Linked DNA regions of Homo sapiens. The protein of the gene in region 2 purifies or fractionates together with the protein of the main gene of each other region. This does not show direct contact. Each region holds a gene or a part of one and is shown on either strand. Other genes may lie near its edges.

Evidence for each region.
Region 1: the proteins of CCNT1 (region 2) and OXSR1 fractionate together in Homo sapiens (co-fractionation; one large-scale study listed by BioGRID). This does not show direct contact.
Region 3: the proteins of CCNT1 (region 2) and PPIL4 purify together in Homo sapiens (affinity purification with mass spectrometry; one large-scale study listed by BioGRID and IntAct). This does not show direct contact.
Region 4: the proteins of CCNT1 (region 2) and CDK11B purify together in Homo sapiens (affinity purification with mass spectrometry, with the first as the bait; one large-scale study listed by BioGRID). This does not show direct contact.
Region 5: the proteins of CCNT1 (region 2) and CPSF2 purify together in Homo sapiens (affinity purification with mass spectrometry; one large-scale study listed by BioGRID and IntAct). This does not show direct contact.
Region 6: the proteins of CCNT1 (region 2) and WDR82 purify together in Homo sapiens (affinity purification with mass spectrometry; one large-scale study listed by BioGRID and IntAct). This does not show direct contact.
Region 7: the proteins of CCNT1 (region 2) and PRP4K purify together in Homo sapiens (affinity purification with mass spectrometry; one large-scale study listed by BioGRID and IntAct). This does not show direct contact.

What each region holds. Positions count from the first base shown.
Region 1 is NC_000003.12:38,168,537-38,172,036, reverse strand, and holds part of OXSR1 (serine/threonine-protein kinase OSR1), read right to left. Parts: intron 1-3,500. UniProt on the Homo sapiens protein: Effector serine/threonine-protein kinase component of the WNK-SPAK/OSR1 kinase cascade, which is involved in various processes, such as ion transport, response to hypertonic stress and blood pressure.
Region 2 is NC_000012.12:48,696,208-48,699,707, forward strand, and holds part of CCNT1 (cyclin-T1), read right to left. Parts: intron 1,977-3,500; coding exon 1,931-1,976; intron 32-1,930; exon of another isoform or gene 1-31. UniProt on the Homo sapiens protein: Regulatory subunit of the cyclin-dependent kinase pair (CDK9/cyclin-T1) complex, also called positive transcription elongation factor B (P-TEFb), which facilitates the transition from abortive to productive elongation by phosphorylating the CTD (C-terminal domain) of the large subunit of RNA polymerase II (RNA Pol II).
Region 3 is NC_000006.12:149,539,544-149,543,043, forward strand, and holds part of PPIL4 (peptidyl-prolyl cis-trans isomerase-like 4), read right to left. Parts: intron 2,044-3,500; coding exon 1,976-2,043; intron 1,889-1,975; coding exon 1,824-1,888; intron 1,517-1,823; coding exon 1,399-1,516; intron 1-1,398. UniProt on the Homo sapiens protein: PPIases accelerate the folding of proteins. It catalyzes the cis-trans isomerization of proline imidic peptide bonds in oligopeptides.
Region 4 is NC_000001.11:1,638,505-1,642,004, forward strand, and holds part of CDK11B (cyclin-dependent kinase 11B), read right to left. Parts: intron 3,498-3,500; coding exon 3,402-3,497; intron 3,317-3,401; coding exon 3,158-3,316; intron 2,610-3,157; coding exon 2,544-2,609; intron 1,949-2,543; coding exon 1,773-1,948; intron 87-1,772; coding exon 1-86. UniProt on the Homo sapiens protein: Plays multiple roles in cell cycle progression, cytokinesis and apoptosis. Involved in pre-mRNA splicing in a kinase activity-dependent manner. Isoform 7 may act as a negative regulator of normal cell cycle progression.
Region 5 is NC_000014.9:92,124,969-92,128,468, reverse strand, and holds part of CPSF2 (cleavage and polyadenylation specificity factor subunit 2), read right to left. Parts: intron 2,348-3,500; 5' UTR 2,289-2,347; intron 1-2,288. UniProt on the Homo sapiens protein: Component of the cleavage and polyadenylation specificity factor (CPSF) complex that play a key role in pre-mRNA 3'-end formation, recognizing the AAUAAA signal sequence and interacting with poly(A) polymerase and other factors to bring about cleavage and poly(A) addition.
Region 6 is NC_000003.12:52,258,150-52,261,649, reverse strand, and holds part of WDR82 (WD repeat-containing protein 82), read left to right. Parts: intron 1-170; coding exon 171-270; intron 271-1,148; coding exon 1,149-1,265; intron 1,266-1,777; coding exon 1,778-1,933; intron 1,934-2,383; coding exon 2,384-2,453; intron 2,454-2,971; coding exon 2,972-3,114; intron 3,115-3,500. UniProt on the Homo sapiens protein: Regulatory component of the SET1/COMPASS complex implicated in the tethering of this complex to transcriptional start sites of active genes.
Region 7 is NC_000006.12:4,027,800-4,031,299, reverse strand, and holds part of PRP4K (serine/threonine-protein kinase PRP4 homolog), read right to left. Parts: intron 1-3,500. UniProt on the Homo sapiens protein: Serine/threonine kinase involved in spliceosomal assembly as well as mitosis and signaling regulation. Connects chromatin mediated regulation of transcription and pre-mRNA splicing.

The DNA.
Region 1 (3,500 bases), on a different chromosome or scaffold from region 2:
ACTCAATCTATATAACGGCCCCAGTGACATAGGTACTATTCTCCCCACTATACAGACAAAAAGCTGACACGGAAACTAATCATATAATTTGTCTAAGATCACATAACTAGTAAGAGGCAATGTCAGGATTTGAATCTGGGTCAGTCTAACCCCAAAGCCCAAATTTTTACAGCTGCTTCAACACATGCCAAATACAGTATAACACATGCTCAGAAATTCTAATCTAAGACTAAGGGCTCAAAAATACTGAAAGATCAATGATTAATTGTGAGAATGATACTAACATCTTTTACACATAATCATACTTAAAGAACTTCAAATCTTGCCAAAGCATGCTTAAGGTGATACAATTCTTTAAAAAAAAAAAAAAGTCCTTTGAATTTTCAATCTATAGGCTTTTAATATGTTCCTAAGAGGAGATTCTGTTCTCTGTAGGATTTTACCAGAAAGACGAAGAACAAAACAGAATGTGAGAAACAATCCCATAAATAGTATACTGCTGAGAAGCAAATGTGAAAAAAATTACAGTTCAAATAAACATGTTACAGTTCAAATAAATGTACGTGTTTTGATGGAGATGACACCATTACACTGATTTCTCTAGAATACAATCCTTTGAAAACAAAATTTAAATGATCCCAAACCCTTTTTTCTAGATTTTAATCATGTGTTTCCTGAAAAAGTTGAGTGTAATCTGAAATCATAAAGATTCATTTTGAAGACTATAGCTTATTATAAAATACTATGTAACAAACATTTTGGTATGGAAGCAAAGTTAGAATAAGAATACAATGCTTTACTGAAACTTGCTACTTATACTAGGCTGTAGCTCAAAGAAAAAAAATTTTTTTTCTCCCTGTTGGGAAAATGGAGAGAGGCTGTCAGGAGCAGACTGGAAGGACGTGACAGGTGTGGAACATCCATCAGATTTTTTTCACTCTAAGGATAGATACTTCCCTTGGCCAGGCACAGTGCTTCATACCTGTAAACCCCAACACTTTAGGAGGCTAAGGTGGGAGGATCACTTGAGCCCAGAAGTAGAGACCAGCCTGGACAACATATGAGACCCTGTCTCTACAAAAAAATAAAACAATGAGGCGGGCATGGTGGCACATGCCTGTAGTCCAGCTACTGGGGAGGACGAGGCAAGAGGATCACTCGAGCCAGGAGTTCATACAGTGAGACAGTGAGCTGTGATTACATTCCAGCCTGGGTGACAGAGTGAGACCCTTCTCAGAAAAAAGCAGGGGAGATCATTCCCTTAATCTGTGAGACAATGACCCCCATCTTCCAGTTTATATCCAAGAACGAATCAATGTAGATACAGGAACAAGGATCCCGAATTAGGCTACAGGAGACACAGATGCCAGTATTGGCTCTGCCTCTAATTAGCTACATGGCTTTAAGCAGTCATGTTACCTTTCTGTCTCTGTGTCTTCAACTGTAAAACAAGGTGGTTCACCTTACTTCACACCATACACAAAAATTAACTCAGTATGTATCAGAGGCTTAAATGCAAGAGCTAAAACTAACACTTAAAAAAAAACAGGAAAAAAAAATCTTCACAATGTTGGGTTAGTAAAGATTTCTTAGATACAACACCAAAAGCAAAATCAATAAAAGAAAAAAATGATAAACATCAAAATTCAAAACTTTTGTACTTTAAAAGACTCCATTAAGAAAATGAAAGAGGCCAGGCGCGGGGGCTCACACCTGTAACCCCAACACTTTGGGAGGCCGAGGCAGGCAGATCATCTGAGGTAAGGAGTTCGAGACCAGCCTGGCCAACATGGTGAAACCCAGTCTCTACTAAAAATACAAAAACTTAGCCTGGTGTGGTGGCACGCATGTGTAATCCCACCTACTTGGGAGGCTGAGACAGGAGAATTGCTTGAACCCAGGAAGCGGAGGTTGCAGTGAGCCAAGATCATGCCACTGCACTCCAGCCTGGGCGACAGAGTAAGACTCCAACTCAAAAAAAAATAATAATAATAAAATTAAAGAAGGCTAAGCGCAGTGGCTCACGCCTGTAATCCTAGCACTCTGGAAGGCTGAGGCAGGCAGATCGCTTGAGCGATCAGGAATTTGAGACCATCCTGGGAAATGTGGCGAAACCCAGTTTCTACAAAAAACACAAAAATTAGCCAAACGTGGTGGCATGTACCTGTAGTCCCAGCTACCTGGGAGGCAGGGGTGGGAGGATCACTTGAGCCCAGGAGGTGGAGTGAGCCCTGATCATGACACTGCACTCCACCCTAGGTGACAGAGTAAGACTGTCTCAAAAAAAAAGAAAGAAAATGAGAAGAAAAAAAAAACTACAGACAGGAAAATATTTAAATTAAATCATATATCAGATGAACGACGCATACCCAGAATGAATACACATACAAACACACATACACACACTTCTATAACTCAAAAAAAAAACGAACAGCCAGGCGCAGTGGCTCACCCCTGTAATCCCAGCACTTTGGGAGGCCAAGCAGGCGGATCACCTGAGGTCAGGAGTTTGAGACCAGCCTGCCCAATATGGTGAAACCCCATCATTACTAAAAACACAAAAATTAGCTGGGCATGGTGGCAGGCACCTATAACCCCAGCTACTCAGGAGGCTGAGGCAGGAGAGTTGCTTGAACTCAAGAGACAGAGGTTGCAGTGAGCCGAGATGGCACCACTGCACCCCAGCCTGGGCAACAGAGCAAGACTCCATCTCAAAACAAACAAACAAACAAAAAAAAAAACAACCCAATGGGCAGTCCAAGTGGACAAAAGATTTGAATAGATATTTCACCAAAGAAGATCCATGAAAGTCTAATAAATAAGGACATGAAAGGATGTTCATCATCATTAGTCATTAGGGCAATGCAAATCAAAACCACAATGAGATACCACTTCATAGTCACTAGGATGGTTACACGCAAAAAGACAACAAATTTAGAGAAACAAGAACTCTTATAATTACTAGTAGGAACATAAAATGGTACAGTTACTTTGAAAATCAGTTTGGCAGTTTCTTAAACAGTTGAATTTGTGATATAACCCAGCAATTCCACTCCTGGGTATACATCCAAGAAAAATGAAACATATTCATGGGGTGACTTGATGTGAATACTCAAAGCAGCCTTGTTCCAAACAGCCAAAAAGCAGAAACAATCCAATGCCCATTAACTGGTATCCAATAAAAAGGAACCATGTACTACATGGCAGATGGATGAACCTCAAAAAGCATTATGGAAAGTAAAAGAAGCCAAACACAAAGGACCACATATTATATGATTACATTTACATAAAATGTCCAGAAAGGACAAATCTATAGAGACAGAAAGTATATTTGTGATTGCCTGGGGCTGGGGGTGGGAACAGGGAGTAACTGCAAATGGACATGAGGCATCTTTCTGGAATGATGGAAATGTTCTAAAATTGGATTGTGGTGATGACTGAACAATTATGTAAATTTACTAAAAGATTATTGAATTGTACATTTTAATCAGGTAAATCTT
Region 2 (3,500 bases):
TCTCAGCCCAAAGCTAAAACTCTCCATTATTTAAAAAAAAAAAAAAAAAAAAAAAAAAAGGCTTAAAAATAGACAGGAGAGTAAGAAGGGTAAGAAATATGCAATGCTCTGATCTAGCACTCAATATAATTTCCTATTAACCCACCTGTTCAGGTAACAACATTTTAAAAACTCTTGAATTACACATCACTTAATCTACACATTGACCAGAGCCAAAAAAAAAAAAAAGGAAAAAAGGAAAAAGGCTGGGAATTCAAGTTCTTTAAAACATTGACTTCTGGGCCAGTATTCAAGCCTAGAAGTCAATATTTATTACCTATTATCCTGAGACTAAGCTCAGATCCTAAGGAAAATTGTAAGCTTTTTGGTCTGTGTAATCCGTAAATCAAAAACTTAAGGAAATATCTTAAAAATAATTTGTCTCTCACCAATCATAGTTCTGGTCTATTTAAAATAATAAACAGACAACTACTCTCTCAAGTATAAATATGTTGGTTTATTTCAAAACTTTTTCGTAACAGGCTATAAAAATGAACTTCTTAGCCCTGACAGTTACTAGGGATATCATTGGTTTCCATTAACTAACAATGTTGGGCAAGTCATTTGGTAATACAAGTTATGTACTAATCATTTACTTTTTTTAGACAGAGTCTCTCTCTCTGTCACCCAGGCTGCAGTGCAGTGGGGCAATCTCGGCTCACAGCACCCTCTGCCTCCTGGGTTCAAGCAATTCTCGTGCCTCAGCCTCCCGAGTAGCTGGTACTACATGCATGTGCCACCTTGCCCTGCCAATTTTCGTATTTTTTAGTAAAGATGTGGTTTCACCATGTTGGCCAGGTTGGTCTCGAACTCCTAGCCTCAAGTGATCCACCAGCCTCAGCCTGGGATTACAGGTATGAGCCACTGTGCCCAGTCTCATTTACTTTTTTTAAAAAGGGAAGAAGGAAAAAGACTGAAACTCTTAACATCCATAAGTGCCCATTGATTGATAGAGGGGGAAGAAAAAGGAATATTTTAAAATATAATTATTGGCCAGGCACAGTGGTTTACACCTGTAATCCCAGCACTTTGGGAAGCCAAGGCAGGCGGATCACTTGAGGCCAGGAGTTTGAGACCAGCCTAGTCAACATAGCGAAACCCCATCTCTACTGAAAATACAAAAAAATTAGCGGGGCATGGTGGCGCCAGTCTATAATCCCAGCTTAGTGAAGAGGCTGAGGCCGGAGAATCACTTGAACCCGGGAGGCAGAGGTTGCAGTGAGCCAAGATCGCACCACTTCAGTCCAGCCTGGTAGACAGAGTGAGACTCTGTCTTAAAAAAAAAAAAATATATATATATATATATATATATGCCTGTAATCCCAGCACTTTGGGAGGCTGAGGTGGGCAGATCACGAGGTCAGGAGATCGAGACCATCCTGGTTAACAAGGTAAAACCCCATCTCTACTAAAAACACAAAAATTAGCTGGGCGTGGTGGCGGGTACCTGTAGTCCTAGCTACTCGGGAGGCTGAGGCAGGAGAATGGTGTAAACCTGGAAGGTGGAGCTTGCAGTGAGCTGATATTGTGCCACTGCACTCCAGCCTGGGCAACAGAGCAAGACTCTGTCTCAAAAAATAATAATAATAATTTAAAAAAAAAAAAAAAAATATATATATATATATATATATACACATATAATTATTGCAGAATACTCCAAATTAGATTTTCAGTCACTATCATGCAGAACTGAGTAGGTTATCAAAAAAATCAGTACTAAATAATTACATAACCTTAGAAAATTAAAAAGTACCATGGAAATTTAAAGTACAACATGAAAACTGTGCAGAAAAATCAACATTCACCAGAGAATTATCTATAGCACACTGTATCAAACTCAAGTAAAGTCCTATACCAAAAATCGAAGAGAAAAAAAAATTAAAATATAAACCTGTTGGTTGCCATGAAGTAAGAAGTCTGTGCTAAGTCCTTGCTTGCTAAAGAAAAAAAAAAAAAGTCAGGGGTGGGGGAGGAAAAAAGTTATTAGTTCCATTCATTCTCAACAAATATTTAGTAAGCATTTAATATTTGCAAGGTACTGTGAATATAGTGGCAAATGAGACACACATGGTCCCTGTAAACCTGACGTTTACATTCTGCCAAAGTAGACAGATCAATGATTTTTAATTTTAACATTAATAACTATGCTGCTTCCAGATCTAGGTACTCAAGCTTTATTCTGCACACCACATATCTGAGGTACTTGTTTAAATGCAATTCTTGGACCTGCTCCCTAAAATTTAATTAAATGTTTGGAGAAGGGTGCAAGCATTTTTTAACAAGTAACCCAGAGATTCTGATGTAAGGATTCACTGAGAATCACTAAACTACAGGATGAACTAAGATGATCTAGAAGCAAGATCAGAATCTAGAAGACTTTGACATATTTGGGAAAAGTGACTTTTGCTGTTAAGAAAGTTTTTAATTAAGGCTGGGCACGGTGGCTCACGCCTGTAATCCCAGCACTTTGGGACGCCGAGGTGGGCGGATCACCTGAGGTCCAGAGTTCAAGACCAGCCTGACCAACATGGAGAAACCCCGTCTCTACTAAAAATAAAAAATTAGCTGGGGTGGTGGCGCATGCCTGTAATCCCAGCTACTCGGAAGACTGAGGCAGGAGAATCGCTTGAACCCGGGAGGCGGAGGTTGTGGTGAGCTGAGATCGTGCTACTGCACTCCACCCTGGGCAACAAGAGCAAAACTCCGTCTCAAAAAAAAAAAAAAGTTTTTAATTAAGTAGCCCTAATTAAGATTTAATTAATTAATCCCCAAATCATCAAATAATGTAATATATTACAATGAAAAAATTTAACTTCTTCCAAAACAAACTGTTCTGGGTGACAAAGCAAATTTTTATCTTCCTCAGGACATAGTCTTCTCAATATTAACATACACCCATCTCTAGTCTTATCCTTGTGCAATATAACATTTTAATACTTTCAAATATAAAGAACTCAGGAAAATTTGGGAATTTTCACAGGAAACACATATTAGTAAAATGTAAAATAAGACCAATTATCAGTTTGGCCTAAAAATCATAAAAGGCACTTAAAGGCACAATAGTGTTCAGATATTCTTGATACTAAACTAAATAAGAGAGTTTCATTCAATTATACCTAATATTGTTAAATTAGAATTAAAAAGAAAAGTTCTGCCAAGGGATTGTATATCATGGAAAGTCCAAATAAATTCTGTATGATCCTCTAGGTGGCCTTTAATCAACCCCAGAATTAAAATAAGATCACCCACTCCTCACAACTTTCATAAAATTTCTGTTAAATAACTTCACAAACTGCCCAACTTTGACAAACATTCTCAAGAGGTTAGTTCTCTTTAACTAGAGATCATCTAAAAATATTACTTGTAAGAACCCAACAGAAAAACATCAAGTCAGAACAACTCATTTTGATTTAAGCCAAGTAGGCCTTTAAATTTAGCCAAAGCAGAACTATTATGTATTG
Region 3 (3,500 bases), on a different chromosome or scaffold from region 2:
ATTTTTGTATTTTTTTGTGGAGATGGGGTTTTCACCATGTTTCCTGGGCTGGTCTCGAAATCCTGAGCTCAACCCATCTGCCTGCCTTGCCCCCGCAAAGTACTGGGATTACAGATGTATGCTACCACGCCAGTCAGTTGTCTTATTTTAAGAAGCTGCCACAGTCACCCCAACCTTCAGCAATCACCACCCAGATTAGTCAACGGCCATCAACATCAAGGCAAGACCCTTCACCAGCAAAAAGATTATGATTTACTGAAGGCTCAGATGATCAGAAGCACTTGTTAGTAATAAAGTATTTTTTGGTCGGCCACGGTGGCTCACACCTGTAATCCCAGCACTTTGGGAGGCCAAGGCAGGTGGATCACCTGGGGTCAAGAGTTTGAGACCAGCCTGGCCAACATGGCAAAACCCTGTCTCTACGAAAAATACAGAAAGTAGCCGAGCGTGGTGGTGGGCATCTGTAATCCCGCTACTCGGGAGGCTGAGGCAGGAGAATCGCTTGAACCTGAGAGGCGGAGGTTGCAGTGAGCCGAGATCACACCACTGCACTCCAGCCTGGCTGACAGAGCAAGACTCTGTCTCTAAATAAATAAAATAAAATAAAATAAAACAAAATACTTAGACAAGCCATGACTCAACTTCATGTGTATATAGTAGAAAACAGAAGTACCTACTCTAACAAGTAGGTCATTGGGAGAATTAACAGGGTCATTGGGAGAATTAAACAAGACAATGAATAGAAGGTACTCTGCGTAATGTTTTTAAAAAAGTAAGAAATACTGAAAAACGGCCAGGCGCGGTGGCTCACGCCTGTAATCCCAGCACTTTGGGAGGCCAAGGCAGGCGGATCATGAGGTCACGTGATTGAGACCATCGTGGCCAACATGGTGAAACCCCGTCTCTACTAAAAATATAAAAATTAGCCAGGTGTTGTGGCAGGCGCATGTAATCCCAGCTATTCGGAAGGCCGAGGCAGGAGAATTGCTTGAACCCGGGAGGGAGAGGTTGCAGTGAGCCGAGGATTGTGCCATCGCACTCCAGTCTGGGAGACAGAGTGAGACTACATCTCATAAAAATAAATTAATTAATTAAATAAAAAGAAATACTGAAAAATGAGCCACAAATGTGAACAGTGATAATCACGGATGGTGGAGTTGTAGGTAATGTTTTTCTTTGTACTTTTCTGTATTTTCTCAATTCTTCACAATAGGAATGCTTTACATTTAAAAGAAGAAAATAATATTTTTTAATATAGAAAAAGTGCATTTTTTCCCCTAACACATATTTCTGATTGAAACCCTCTAAGCCTTACTGGATAGTTTAAAAAATAACTCTGTGGGCTCCTTCCAGTCCTTCATTTCTAAGCAAATCTCATATTCTTACTCATTTCCTAACCTGAGATCCATGTTGATCACTGCCATTATTCACCATGGACACTGTGCCTTTCTTCTTGTGCTTAATTCTTGGGACTTTTTCTGCCTCAAAAAAGCTTGCTTGATCACCATACAGTTGGCTGAAAAAACATATAAGGTTATAAATGTAAGTACTCTCAAAATGAAATACAGAAGTACTAGTAACATACAGGGTTATCAATTATTTCTTTACAGAAATGCCAACAGAATTCAAAATATTACTTTTTTTTTTTTAGGGAACTTGGGGGAAAAAATCTAAATTTAAACCATATTTTAAAATGCAGATTGAAGCATGAGCAATTATATTTTTCCTCATTTAAGAATAAAAGAATTTGTTCTGCCCTTCCAGAGGTTAAAAGTAAATAAATAAATAAATAAATAAATAAATAAATAAATAAAACAACTTACCCAAAGATAGACTCTCCTCCACGGCCAGTCCCTGTAGGATCGCCAGTTTGTATGATAAAATCCCTCTGTAATATGTAGGATTCTTTGTTAATTCACAGAGTTTGTTAGATAGTTCCAATAACAAAGGAAATGACTAATATCTACCAACTCACCTGTACATTGTGAATAAGGCAATAATTGTAATATTTTATTTTGCACAGTTTCAAGAAATTCAAGCAGGCTGAAAGAAAGTAAATACCAAATTTATCACAGTAATCCACAAACACATTTTTAAATAAGTAAAGCCACAGTAAAATGTAATTTCTAAATTACTATTAAAAGAAAAAAAAAGTCAAATGTCCAAAGCTATAAAAAAGGGCAATAGGCCGGGCGCTGGCTCACACCTGTAATCGCAGCGCTTTGGGAGGCGGAGGTGAGTGGATCACTTGAAGTCAGGAGTTTGAGACCAGCCTGGCCAATATGGTGAAACCCTGTCTCAACTAAAAATACCAAAAAAAATTAGCCAGGCATGGTGGCGGGCACCTGTAATCCCAGCTACTAGGGAGGCTGAGGCAGGAGAATCACTTGAACCCAGGAGGTGGAGGTTGCAGTGAACCAAGATCGCACCACTGCACTCCAGTCTGGGCAATAGAGCAAGACTCTATCTCAAAATAAAATAAAATAAAATAAAATAAAAGGGCAATAAGTCTAGAAAAAAAACATTTTAAATTACCTTTTTTTTTCCTTTAATAGGAGTTTTGGGGCATCTGGGCTAATACAGAAAACTGACACTTATAAGCAATCATTTACTGATGGATTGATTTTATTACGAGAAAAAAGAACACTTAAAGAGCATATTGTAGTAGAAAAGGATCTAGCAGAATATATAAAAATGGATACGGATTATATCAATTAGGAAAAAGTCAAACACCCGGGGTCATTTTTTAAATAATAGTTAAACAGCCCTTTATAAAAATCCATACACTTATGAACAACCTTTCTCATACAAGTTAATCTGCTTATCCAATAAACATTTACTGAGTACCTTCTAGATGCCTGACACTGCCATCACAAATGCCATTAAACTGTGGTCCCTGCTCCCAAAAAGTTCACAGTCTAGTCGTGGAAAGACACATTAACAAGCTCTTAAGGCACTAAGTTAGAAACCAAACAGACAGTAAGATATATGAGGCAATCCCTGCCCTCAAAAAGCTTACATTAAATTAGGGTCCTTACATCTGAACACAAGTAGTTACATACTGGGCATATCTAATTAATAACATGTGTGCCACTTATTTAAAATGGTAAAAAAAGTAGTTTTAAAAATTCCACAAGAGTTCAAAAGATTGTTTCTGGCTAGGGAAATTAGAAAACCTCAGGGAAGGTTAAGGCAAGCATTAAAAGAACTGGACTAGCAGAGAGTGAAGGGTGAGCATTTTAGGTCTGGAAGACTATGAAAAGGCCTGGAAGTGGAAATTTAAATGTTTTAGGGGAGGTCCAAAACACCAAAGTTCTGTAATAGTCTGGTATTACACAGTAATAGAGCATGAAAAGACTGGAGAGATAAGATGGGGCTGAGCTGTTGAAGAGTGCTGAATATCAGTCTTGCAGTTGTTTTTCTTGAATATATTTCTGGGCTTCATGTTTAACAGATAGGGGTGGTCCTTTTACTAGAAACAAAAATAATGAATTTAGGCA
Region 4 (3,500 bases), on a different chromosome or scaffold from region 2:
TTCTTGTCTTTTGCTCTGTAGACCACTCCATAGGTGCCCTCCTCGATCCTGTTCAGGCACTGGAACTCCTCGACGCTCCGGCAGCCCTGGGAAGGAAGCGCCTGTGTGAGGTCTCAGTGGCCATGCCAGCTGGAGGGAGGGCGGCTGCGTCCACAGGCACGGCACACCCGGCACGGGGCAGGTGCAGGGCAGAGCCTTGGGACTGGGCCGGGGGTGGAGCCGGGAGCAGCTCAGTTCTTTCAAAGTCTCTTTCCTTGCAAAACCATCTGACACTTTATTATGAAACAAAACCAGTGTGAACAAAAGGCCATCCCAGCCAGGTGCAAGGGCTCAGGCCTGTAATTCCAGCACTTTGGGAGGGCAAGGCAGGAGGACTGCTTGAGCCCAGGAGTTCAAGACCAGCCCGGCCAACATAGCAACACTCTGTTTTCTATTTTTTTTTTTTTTTTTTTTTGAGACGGAGTCTCGCTCTGTCACCCAGGCTGGAGTGCAATGGTGAGATCTCGGCTCACTGCAACCTCCACCTCCTGGGTTCAGGCGATTCTCCTGCCTCAGCCTCCCTAGTAGCTGGGAGTATAGGTACGCACCACCACGCCAGGCTAATTTTTGTATTTTTAGTAGAGACAGGATTTCACCATATTGGCCAGGCTGGTCTCGAACTCCTGACCTCTGATCCGCCCACCGCCTCGGCCTCCAAAAGTGCTGGGATTACAGGTGTGAGCCACTGTGCCCGGTCAAAACTCCTTTCTACAAAATAAAAAAATTAGCCAGGCATGGTGGCTTGCGCCTGTAGTTCCAGCTACTCAGGAGGCTGAAATGGGAGGATTGTTTGAGCCTGGGAGGGGGAGGCTCCAGTGAGCTATGATTAAGCCACTCCACTCCGGCCTGGGTGACAGAGACAGACCCAGTCTCCAAAAAAAAAGCCATCCCAAGAGTCTCTTTGTCAAACTGGATGTGTCCCCTGCTTGTACCAGGATGACACTGAGGACGGGCCCTACCTGCCAGGCGCAGCATGATGCCCCATGCCAGGGCACCTACCCCTCCGTGTACCTTGGGGCCGGTGCCCAGGCCGGATGTCATGTACTCGGGGTGGCCTGTGGCCCGACGCCTACGCTCAGCAGCACTAAGGGGCAGAGGCGCTCACAAGGCATAGGGCAGTCGACAGAGGCCTGCTGCATGCGCCAGAGAGAACCTCTCCGCCCACAGGCACCAAGGAGGGGGCCGAGTCCCTGCCGGTCTCCCAGGCCCCAGAGGCCACTGGCACCTTCTCAGGCTTGTCCCTTCCAAATCGCTCCCAACAATATCCTGCCTTATTGATAGCTGCCTAAGCAAAAGGCTTCTGGTCACACATCTACACTGACTCCCGTAGCCGCTCCCCCATCCAAGCCCTGCACAGATGCCGGTAACAAGGCCTTGGTGCCTACATAACCCGCCCACGCAGGGGTCAAGTGGAAGGCACTGCTCTCCAGTGCGGAGGAGGACGCAACTCGGGCAGCAGTGACAGCAGCGCGGCCGCACGCCCAGGCTGCCTTTCAAGCCGCAGAGCAGTCCTGCGGGCAGCTCCCTGTCCACCCAGTTCCGTCCAGCATGAGAAAGAGGCGGGACCTAGAAGCATGAGGGGCCAGTGGCTGTGCCCGCCCGTCACTGCCCCAGTGGGCCCAGCAGCCCTGTGAGGCGACAGACGCCAACACGGGGGCCAGGCTTCGCTCAGCCCCTGTGGTAACTCCGACTGCCAATGCGGACAGTGGCCCGGGGCGAGGGGAGGGCCTGACCTGCAGGGCCGGCAGGTACTTGGGCAGCTCCTGCTTGAGCTCGATGGGCGACAGGGCAGGGGAGTCGGGCACATAGTCGCCCTCTGTCAGGGCGCTGCTCTGCGGCGTTCCCTCACCCACTTCTTCCTCTGCTTCTTCACTCTCCCCGGAATCTCGGTCGAACCGTGACTCTGGAACTGGAAAAGTTGAACCTAATTACGAAGCTAGGAGTAAGCAAGGATCATGAACCTCCTCCTGCCCCGGGGGCATCAAGCGCGTGGCAGGGCTGCCCCGTGTCCCGCTGGGAGGTGCTGGCGCTGGGCTCTCGTCCCCTGGACACAGGGCACCGAGGCCTAAGAGTGCTGGCAGGCTCGGCTGAGACAGAGCCCGGATGCTGAGCTGGGAGGAGGCGTCGGGTGTCATGTGGGGGACAAGCCCACATCCACGTCCACCAGGCTGAGGACATAACCTCACTGCCTGTCGGAGGCTGGGCCAGGCCTCTGCTCTGCAGGGACAGGCCCGGAGCCACCATCTGACGGGCCTCCCCTGTGGGGAACTGGTCCTGGGCTTCCCAGCTCCTCGGCCCTGCTGGGCACTCAGGACGCCCTTGGTCAGCACTGTGCCTCGCTGAGGAATGCGGGCCCCACCGGCACAGCCTGGAGCGGCCAACGAATCAGGCGGCCTCCCAGACCCTGGCGTGCCCCACGCTGCGCAGGACCGGCTGTCTTAGGAGAGGGCTGCTGCACTCGGAGACAGACAAGGAGGGGGCTCTGTCTCCAGGGAGGTTCTTACCAACCAAGAGGTGGTTTTCATTTTCTCGTTCTTCATCTTCACTCATTTCTTCCTCACTTACTTCTTCTGCAAGAGAAAGGAGGCGTCTGCTCAGACCAGCACCGGGGCGAGTGCTGCCACAGGCAGGATGCGGGCTCCGCTTCAGCTAAGCAACAAGTGTTCCCAAGAATGGATATGCAGGCCGGGCGCGGTGGCTCACGCCTGTAATCCCAGCGCTTTGGGAGGCCAAGGCGGGTGGATCACCTGAGGTCAGGAGTTCGAGACCATCCTGGCCAACGTGGTGAAACCCCGTCTCGACTAAAAATAAAAAAATTATCCGGGCGTGCTGGCGCACACCTGTACTCCCAGCTACTTGGGAGGCTGAGGCGGGAGGATCACTTGAACCCGGGAGGCAGAGGTTGCAGTGAGCCGAGATCATGCCACTGCACTCCAGCCTGGGCAACAGATCAAGATTCCATCTCAAAAAAACAAACAAAAAGAATCGATGTGGAGGTGTCCCGAGAGAGTCCTAGATAGAAGGGAGTTTCAACTCCCCCGCCCGCCAGCTACTTCTCTGCGGTTTCTAACACTATAGTGAAGTCACAACACCTCACATAGTCGTCGCGGTGCCTCACCGGCAGACTGCTCTGATGCCTCCTCAGAGTTGCTGCCGGTCTCCTCCTCCTCCTCTTCCTCTTCCTCCTCCTCCTCCTCTGATTCTTCACTGGTGCTCCCTTCCTCCTCCTCCTCTTCCTCCTCCTCCTCTTCTTCCTCAGAACCTGAGCCTGATTCCGCTGTAGAAAGACAGCAGAGCAGAGGGTGAACCTGGGCCTTCCTGGGCAGCAGTGGTCAAGGCCTTGGCCAGGCGGTTCCAGGTACCTGACGAGGACTCGGCCGAGCTGGTCTTCCTCTCGCTGTCGCTGATGTCCTGTAAGTCGGACAGCAGGTCCCTTTCTTCCATTTTCTCTTCTTTTACTT
Region 5 (3,500 bases), on a different chromosome or scaffold from region 2:
ACTCTGTTGCCAGGCTGGAGTGCAGTGTCACGATCTTGGCTCACTGCCACCTCCATCTCCCGGGTTCAAGTGATTCTCCTGCCTCAGCCACCTGAGTAGCTGGGACTACAGGCATGCACCACCACGCCCAGCTAATTCTTTTTGGTAGAGACGGAGTTTCACCATGTTGGCCACAATAGTCTCGATCTCTTGACCTCATGATCCACCTGGCCCATTTTTTTTCTTTTTTTTTTGAGACAGAGTTTCACTCTTGTCACCCAGGCTGGTATACAGTGGCAAGATCTCAGCTCACTGCAACCTCCACCTCCTGGGTTCAAGTATTTCTCCTGCCTCAGCCTCCCGAGTAGCTGGGATTACAGGCACCTGCCACCACACCTGGCTAACGCTATTTGCTCTTTAAATTCATGGCCAAAGGCCTCAAACAGGCCGTAAGTATTACCCTTCAATCTGACTTTTCTTAGTAGGTTGACTTTCAGTTTCTGAGACTACTACTCCACACCTCCTCCTCTTTGTTCAAAGATCACCCATCCCTCCCTCCACCCTAGTCTCAGCTGATAATCTCATTTCATTCTTCAATCAGAAAATAAAATTAGACAATAATTTCTCATTTTCCAGATACTACATCTATTAACCTATCTGCATGTACACTGTTGGGTCTCCTGTTGTATAGAATAGTCCTGCTCCCATCCAAGGCCAATCCCTCTATGTGTGCCGTTGATCCCATTCTTATTCACCTTCTGAAAGACTTGACATCTTCAGTCATTCGCTCTTTCCCCTGCATCAACGTATCACTGATGTACCATTCCCACAAGCTTATAAAAATACTCTAGAATTTCCCAACTTATAAGAACCCTCTCTTAACCCTTCAACCCCCAACAACCACTACATCATTTTTGGGTTTCCCTTTCACAGCAAAAGTTCTCAGAATATTTGTCCACAGATATATCTCCACTTCCTCACCTCCCATTTGCACTAAGTCTGAGAAGCCAGAGAAATGTCCATTGGCTTAAGTTGTATAGAGGTTTATCAATGACCTTTATAAAACACTTCCAGTGATATACTTTCATAACAACTCATTATATTTCTCAAATTTTCTTCTCTCTTCACTGTGACCAAAACCTCTAACTTTTATATATATTTTCCCTGTCTCTAATTTATTCTGAGTCATTCTCAGAGGTAGTCATTCTCTGACCACCCTAAAGTCCTTCTTCACATCCATTACAACATCATTCTATTTCCCTCAAAATACTTAGTGCTCTCTAATTGCTACTTATTTATTTACTTGCTTTGTCTGTCACCTTCTCCCCTCCTGTGCCCACACTGGAATGCAGACTCCATGAAGGTAAAGACCTTCTCTGTTTTCATCACAGTTACATTCCAGCGCCTCCACAGTGCCTAATATACAGTGGTAGCCGATAAATGTTTCTTAAAGGAAGGAATGGGGCATGGCTAGTATTAAATAAGCTCACTGTCCTTACCACACCATAAACCAGAACCCATCCACATGTATTTGCCCTTGCTTGGGAGAGCTCTCTGAGTACAGGAGTTGGCTTGATCCATTTTTTTATCCTTAGTACATTAGCACATCCCTGCACATAGTGGTTGTTCAATAAATAACTGTTGGTAAGTTAAAATTTAAAATATATTGACTTGTTTTTGTTTCCTGAAACAGGATCTTGCTCTGGTACCCAGGCTGGAGTGCAGTGGTGCAATCATGGCTCATTTGCAGCTTCAACCTCCTGGGCTCAAGTGATCCTCCCACCTCAGCCTCCTGGGTAGCTGGGACTACGGGCACGCACCACCACACTCGGCTAATTTTTTGTAGAGACAGGGTTTCACTATGTTGCCCAGGCTGGTCTTTAACTCCTGGGCTCAAGTGATCCACCCACCTTGGCCTCCCCAAATGCTGGAATTACAGGTGTGAGACAGCACGCCTGGCCTTCATGTGTTCTTATTTGGGGTACAAAGACATTAATTCTCTATTTGATGAAAAACGTTTATAAATACAATTTTGGAAAGGACCTTGGAAATTATCCCTGTCAAAAAGCTTACTGTACCACAATTATATTAATGGCCTAAGGGAAACTCTTTTCTACTTAAGTCTTCCTTAATTCCCACTTTCTTCATTTAGATTATGAAGTAACATGCAAGGTATCTTGCAGCTAGAACTGAGTAAGTTCATATTAAAACTGTTTTGCAGACAGACCAAGATTTCAACAGATGAAAAGATATTTTCACTACAATTATTCATAATAAAGCTATATCTTTATCAAACATTCACTACTTACTGATATCTTAGTCGTATATATGATGAAACACCAGGAATTCTGAAGAGTTCTTTATTAATCTAAAAAATAAATAAAAGCCTTATGAATGTGGTATTATGATTTCATTCTGTTTATAATTATGGTGTTTAATTTGTATCTTGCCCTAAGGCATCAGGAGCAGCAGCAAGTAGTATAATACGTGGTCCTTTTTTAAAAAAGAGATCTGTCATTAATTTTAGGAATCTTAAGCTTACATAACAGATAATAAAAGACATAAAAATATTTAGGAAGTTTTTTTTTAAGTTGACATTACCTTATGTTATTGAGAATCATAGAAGAGGTGGGATTTAAGATTACTCACTAAGGATTGGTAAGACATGGGTAGAAACAAAGAGAAGGTACTCAAAACAGAGGAGTAACAGGAGTAAAGGAATACCAGACATCTCAGATCTCTACACTTTTGAGTAAGTTTTAAAGTACCAGTGAAAAAACTAGCCTGGAAAACATTCACAAAAGCAAAAAATAAAAGATAAGGCCTAATGAACAGAAAGGGGCCAGATAGTGAAAGGCCTTGGAAACTGTGAACCTAGTCCTGCAGGCAACAGAAACATTTTAAGACTCATTATCAAGTAGAAAGATGGCATGATACAGGTAATTCTGTATTTTGGGGATATTAGCTGGTGTGTATGATTGATGAGATGATACAGAAAGCAGGGAGATAAAAAGCGAAAGTATTTAGTGGACCACCCCTTCCTAACGTTACTGATTCTATCTTGTGACCAAATTTCTTCAGTCTCAAATTGTATTTTATAGCTCTGCGACATGAATATATTAGTTGTTATCTAAGTAACCAAGGTTTGAAATGCTACATGCTGATTCTTCACTTCTGGGACAGTCTATTATTACCAGTTCCTGATTATTCTTCCCTCAGGAACGCTTTGCACATCATTCCCTTTCTATCCCACTGCCAGTACCCTAATACAGGAAGGGCCTCACTACCTTATGTTTGGGTTTCTCAGTTTCTCTGCCTCCAGTATTTCCTCCCTTCATCCAACCTAAACATTGCTACCAGATTCATCTTCAGAAATACCCTGCACCTATTACCCCTTGCTCAGAAATCTCTGAAGGCTTCTTACTGCTTGAGAAAAGACAAACCAAATGCCTTAACTGGCAATGGAGGTTGCCAGGAAGCCACCCTGACATCACTGCTCAATGTCTTCAGGCCCAGCTCAT
Region 6 (3,500 bases), on a different chromosome or scaffold from region 2:
TTTGTTTGTTCCAGATATGGTTGTGGTATGTGTGTTTTATTGTGTTTCTTAAAATGGCAATTTTGGGAGAACAGGTATATATATGTATAGATAGGCAGAGTGGTTTAGAATTCACATCCAATTTTTGCTAATATTTCGCATCAACTCCTATTTATCTCGATGTATTGCAGGGTGGTGGCCTTGTCCATGTCACCTGTGGATGACACTTTCATTTCTGGGTCTCTTGATAAGACCATTCGACTCTGGGATCTCCGGTCTCCTAACTGCCAGGTAATGGTACCTCACAGTTATACTTTTTGAGCATTTTCTTTGGTAGGCACTGTAATGAACTCTACCTCTCAAAGAAGGGAGAAAACAGTGGTTCCATTCTGGGATCACAGGGTCTTTTTAAACTTTGGAGAAAATCTGTTTTTTTAGTTGGTAGCTGCTAAGCACATACCCTAATCTAGTGCAGATTGCATTGTACTCTGTGGCTTAATTGTTGTGGGTTTTTTGTTGTTTTGTTTTGTTTTTGTTTTTGTTTTGAGACAGGGTTTCGCTCTTGTTGCCCAGGCTGGAGTGCAATGGTGCAATCTCAGCTCACCGCAACCTCCACCTCCAGGGTTCAAGCGATTCTTCTGCCTCAGCCTCCCAAGTAGCTGGGATTACAGTCATGCACCACCATGTCTGGCTAATTTTGTATTTTTAGTAGAGACGGGGTTTCTCCATGTTGGTCAGGCTAGTCTCCTGACCTCAGGTGATCCTCCTACCTTGGCCTCCCAAAGTTCTGGGATTATAGGCGTGAGCCACTGCGCCCAGCTGGCTTAATGTTTTTAAAAGTGTTCCTAGAGCTTTTAGCTTCAAGGGATTTATTTTTATTTGAATTCTGTGTCTGTAATATTGTGCAGTTAGAGTTGATCAGAAATTGTTGTCTGGAGACCTGTTTTTTAAAAGCTTCATTTTAGTTTTATGTTTTTTTTGTGTGTGTTCTGTAGGTAGGCTGATATTTGTTTGTATGCCTTTCTTAGTTTTAATTGGGAAAAGTAAATTATATAGTGGTAAGGTCCTGGATTCATTTTTTTTTCCCCATTGTACCAGCAGTCTTTGGTTATTCCACGTATGGTTGTGGCATGTGTGTTTTAGTGTATTTCTTATTTCTTTTCTCTTAGGGCCTCATGCATCTGCAGGGGAAGCCAGTTTGTTCTTTTGATCCAGAAGGGTTAATTTTCGCTGCAGGTGTCAACTCTGAAATGGTCAAGCTTTATGACCTTCGTTCTTTTGATAAGGTAAATCTTTGAATCTTTGAGATCTTTGAGCTGTTTTTTGTTTTGTTTTGTTTTTGAGACAGAGTTTTGCTCTTATTGCCCAGGCTGGAGTGCAGTGGTGTAATCTCAGCTCACTGCAACCTCTGCCTCCCAGGTTCAAGTGATTCTCCTGCCTCAGCCTCCCAAGTAGCTGGGATTACACGTGTCCGCCACCACGCCTGGCTAATTTTTTGTATTTAGTAGAGATGGGTTTCACCATGTTGGTCAGGCTGGTCTCAAACTCCTCACCTCTGGTGATCCACCCACCTCGGCCTCCCAAAGTGCTGGGATTACAGGCGTGAGCCACCGCGCCCGGCCCTGTAAGAGCCTTTTCTACAAAAGGAAAAATGTGGTAGATATTAGAGAGTGGCAGAGAAGTAGCTCATTCTCTGCTTTCCTTAGTCAAAAAGTAATCTAAAGGAATAGGATGGGAATTGGCTCTAGCAGAAGAAATTATTAATATGCCTGGGGCTACTGTTTTTTATCTTTTGCAGGGGCCATTTGCTACCTTTAAGATGCAGTATGATCGAACTTGTGAGTGGACAGGACTTAAATTCAGCAATGATGGCAAGCTCATCCTCATTTCCACCAACGGCAGCTTCATTCGTCTGATTGATGCATTCAAAGGAGTGGTGATGCACACATTTGGGGTGAGCTGACAGCCTTCAAGCATGGCTGTTTCCATGCTCATACTTCCTATGCTAAGAATTATGTTAGCTGGTTGGTGGAGACCAACAGTTACTCTTGACTTACTCATGAAGGCATGCACTTGTATTTTCTTCCTGCTCATGAACTTACCTCTCTTGGATTTCGTAGATGTTCATTTCTCACCAAGTGACCCAAGTTTGGTATTTAGATATAAAATAATTTCCTAACAATAAAGTTTTCTTGCCCCCTTGAGTATGCCTTGAATACAGAGTTGAGGGTGGGAGTGGATTGTCAACGATGGCAACCACATTTGGAAGCTTGGTGGTGTAGTACATGACAAGGAAAGGGTTTCATGGAAAGGAAGGTGATGCATGTGCTGAGTCAGTGTTTGTAGGCAGCTGTTTTTATTAATGGCTCTGTAAGAACAAAAGAACTGCTCTGTTTTGTTTTAGGGTTATGCCAACAGCAAAGCTGTCACACTGGAGGCTTCATTTACTCCAGACTCTCAGTTTATTATGATTGGTGAGTTTCCTTTTATCCCCTGTGGGGGTTATTTCTCTGGTACTATGCATTTCTTTGTTTAAATTATTAACTGAGACATTATTATCTATTTGATAGATGTTCTTAGATTTCTGTATAGCACATTATGCCAAGGACATAGTGTCTTTTAACTGCCCTGACTGGACCAAAATTTGAGTTAAACTCCACAAGCACTACCTTATTAGTAATGCTAATGTCCTGGTGTAACCCTACATTCAGTCATCTTAGTGGCTGCCTGTTGGTAGGGTAATGGTATTCGGCCCCTTTTTTAGATGAGAAAACTGAAGTTAGAACGGAAGTGACATGCCTGTGAACAAATAGCTAGGGTCAAGATAAATTTCCAAAGTGTCCTTCCTTCACTGCCTCTCCTCCCTCTCAATTTTGCCTGAGGGATGGGTCCTAAAGCTTGGCGTATCCTCAGATCTCAATCCATGTCTCATTTCCAGTTGTCTTTGTATTGCGCCTTGAGCTGTTACATTTTCCGTGAATATCCTCTTTAGGTTCAGAGGATGGCAAGATCCATGTCTGGAATGGAGAGAGCGGTATAAAAGTAGCTGTGTTGGATGGTAAACACACAGGCCCGATTACCTGTTTGCAATTCAACCCCAAGTTCATGACTTTTGCCAGTGCGTGTTCCAACATGGTATGTGAACAGTAAGAGGTATCTGCTACTCAGGGACCCTTCCCAGTTGGGGTGGTGGGTGCCTCAACAAGCACAGCAAGCTGTGTTCTACATAGGTACATTACAAGCATCCAAGTACATGTTTCTCAACTGGTGGTTTCCCTATTTCATCTCCTATTATTTGATCTCTGGCTGGGCTGGTCTTGCCTTTCATTTTTATTCTTCCTAGAGGTGATCAGGAATCATCTTTGAGTTCCAAGGAGATCATAGGCCAGTTTTTGCTCTGGACCCTAATTTTAGGTCCAAACTACCTGGGCTATGCTTGGCAATTTTTTTGCTCCTTAAAATACTCTGAACCGGCCTTTTGTGGTTTCAGTTTTCCATTCCTGTTGGTTTACGCCAAATTC
Region 7 (3,500 bases), on a different chromosome or scaffold from region 2:
CTTAAAAAGTACAGGTTAGAGAAAAAGGGAAAAGCAAACCAGGCACAGCAAAACCTCATTAACATTGATTTAGTACAAGAAGCCACTCAGTAACTTAATTTTTAAACCAACATTTCTCACACATTAACAACCAAAGGGCCCGTTTTCTTTTTTAATAAGACCTACTAACTATTAACATACACTGGAAGACTAATCTCCTTCTCCACTTGAAATTCATGAAACTTGGTGTCTCTACAGTAAACCCAGCAGGTCACTTGTTTTGAGCAGATTTCATCTTATACCTTAAAAACAAAGCAAAACAAAACAAAACTCTAGAGCCAATACTGAGCTATACCCAAAATAAGCACTCAATCAATGTGCATTGGTAGCTGATACTGATGATGGTGATAGTATAAACACATCCTCACAAGTTGAATCTTCAAAGTGAACTAAACCGGAAGTTAGGACTCTAGGCTTGTAGTAAGCAATCATACGACATTAGGCTGAACCACATGGAAGGGCCTTTTGTAAGTCAACAAGTCTAATATCAGTAATTTAATACAGTACAGCCCAATATTCATTCAGCAAGTGATTTAATCTCTCTGAATTTCAAATGAGAACTCAGTTTCCCAAAATACATTTACATTAACAGATGCTATGGAAATAAATAAATAAAGTGGGGGATTCTGTGCTTAAATGTTTGGCTTATGCTGAGTTAAAAAGTTTATGATTCTAAATTACGTTGTCGAGCCCTTGGTGTTTAAGAATCCCAAGTTAAATACTGGTTCAAAAGCACTATTTAACTTTCTCTTTAAAAGTTACTCCATAATAAACCATCATCCTAGAATATCAGACCAAAAGTGGCCTTAAATTATCTAGATTCAGGCCATCATACTATTTTTGGAGGAAGCTATGGATTATTTTGTCAGGTCTTCATATTATATACTCCTATACTTTTAGTAAGTTTATCCTTGCAACCTAAGAATTCATCTGTCTACTCACAATCTCTTTAACATTTAAAAAAAACTCACCAACCATGGGTAAGCATTAAGCCACGCGGCAGGAAAACAGATGTACAAGCCAGGCATGGTGGCTCACGTCTGTAATCCCAGCACTTTGGGAGGCCAAGGTGGGCAGATCACCTGAGGTCAGGAGTTCAAGACCAGCCTGACTAACATGGGGAAACCCCCTCTCTACTAAAAATACAAAAATTAGCCAGATGTAGCGGCACATGCCTATAATCCCAGTTACTCGGGAGGCTGAGGCAGGAGAATCTCTTGAACCTGGGAGGCGGAGGCTGCAGTGAGCCAAGATTGCGCCATTGCACTCCAGCCTGGGTGACACAGTGTGACGCAGTCTCAAAACCAAAAAAAAAAAAAAAAGAAAGAAAACAGATTACAAAACCAGTATCTGCCTCCTTCAAAGAAATTAATGTCTGGTGGAAAACTAAGTCACATGACATAACCATAAAATACTGGAGAAGTGCAATGATGAAGACACAAATAGGGGCATTATGGGAACACTGAAGGATCACCTAAACTAATTTCGAGAACGGTCAGGGACACTGTTTTGTAGATCACAGAAAGAAACCAATTTGTTAAGCAGGGATGTTAGGAGGAAAGAAGAAACGTTTACTGAGAAAGGACAGGGATTAAAAAATAAAGGTTGGCCCAGGCACAATGGCTCACATCTGTAATCCCAGCACCATGGAAGGCCAAGGCAGGAGGATCACTTGAACCCAGGAGTTCGAGACAAGCCTGGGCAACAGAGTGAGACCTCATCTTTATTAAAAATAAAAAAATTAGCTAGGTGAGACCTCATCTTTACTAAAAATAAAAAAAATTAGCTATTCAGGAGGCTGAGGTGGAAGGATTACTTGAGCCTGGGAGGTCAAGGCTGCAATGAGCCATGATGGGGCCACTGCACTCCAGCCTGGGTGACAGAGCAAGACCCTGTCTTTAAAAAAAAAAAAAAAAAAAAATTGAGTAACACCGCCCTAGAGAATGAGTAAGGAATTAACAAGAAGGGAAAAAGGGGCATTTCAAATAGAGAAAGAAGGTGACAAAAGGCAGTTATATATAGCAAACTTCAAGTCGATCAGTGTTGTGAAAGACACTGAGGTAAAGATTCCAAGTGGAGCCAGGCATGGTGGTGCACACCTGTAGTCCCAGCTACTCAGGAGGCTGAGGTGGAAGATCACTTGAGCCCAGGAGTTTGCAGCTGCAATGACCTATGATCACACCACTGCACTCCAGCCTGGGCAACAGAGAGAATCCTCCATCTCATTAAAAAAAAAAAAAAAAAAAAAGATTCCAAGTAGACCAATTCCAGGAGATAACAAGATAATATATGGTTCTAGGAGTGGGTAGTTGAGAGAGAATTAAAGGTTCACTGGAGTCACAGAGGCCCAGGAACTGCAAAAGTACGTTGTCTAGCCAGGTCTCATAGTCTTGAATAAACTTGCTGGGAGAAGGGGTGGGGGAGAGAGAATGGCGGTATGACTGAGAAGTTACTAATTAGTTGACAACAATGAGGGGGAGTGAAAAACACATAGCCACTACAGGGTACCATACTCAAAGAACTTTGATTTTTGGATGTCACATTGCCAACTTCCATTTCTGGCAGGAAAAGGTATTTAAGAGATGTGCAGAAGAAGCTACGTCCTCTGGTGAAAGTCAGGTTTTAATTTGGGTTGACTTCTCCCTAATGGAGTATGAGAAGACACATGACAAATACAGTAGTGTTCTCTGGATCATTAATTTTTCTCAAAGACTTGGAAAAAGTGCAGTATCTTGGTATTATAAAAACACCACCAGGCCATGTGCAGTGGTTCACACTTGTAAGCCCACACTTTGGGAGGCTGAAGTGGGAGGATTCCTTGAGCCCAGGAGTTCAAGGCCAGCCTGGGGACCATGGTGAGATCCTATCTCTACAAAAAAATTTAAATTAACTGGGTATGGCAGCATGTGCTTGTAGTCCCAGTTACTCAAAAGGCTGAGGTAGGATCACTTGAACCCAGGAGGGGATCACTTGAGCCCAGGAGTTAAAGGCTGCAGTGAGTCATGATCATGCACTGCACTCCAGCCTGGGCAACAAAGGAAGACCCTATCTCAAACACACACAAAAAACAAAACACCATCATTGTTTTATTATGGAAGGGAAAGAAGTCACATAGATTTCAGTAAAAAGATTCCAAGACATTTCAACTTTGTTCTTTATATAGGCTATATTCTCATCCTTTGTCCCCAGAAATCTCCCATCCCATAATCCAGAAGGTCTTTTTTTTCCTGAACCTTGACTTATAGGGGGAAAAGTCTGAGAAAAATTTAGGCTAATTCAAGTTATGAAGGTAGGAGAGTCTTTAAAGATTGAGAATGATCTTTAGGCGTATAAAATCTAAGTGCCCAAAGTACAAAATTCTAGTCACTAAGCTCAAATTCAAAATTACCTAAAGTTTTGAGTTTTAACTCAAGACTGTCCTCAAGACAAAGGACAGCTGAGTGGTTAAGCAGTCTCTGGAG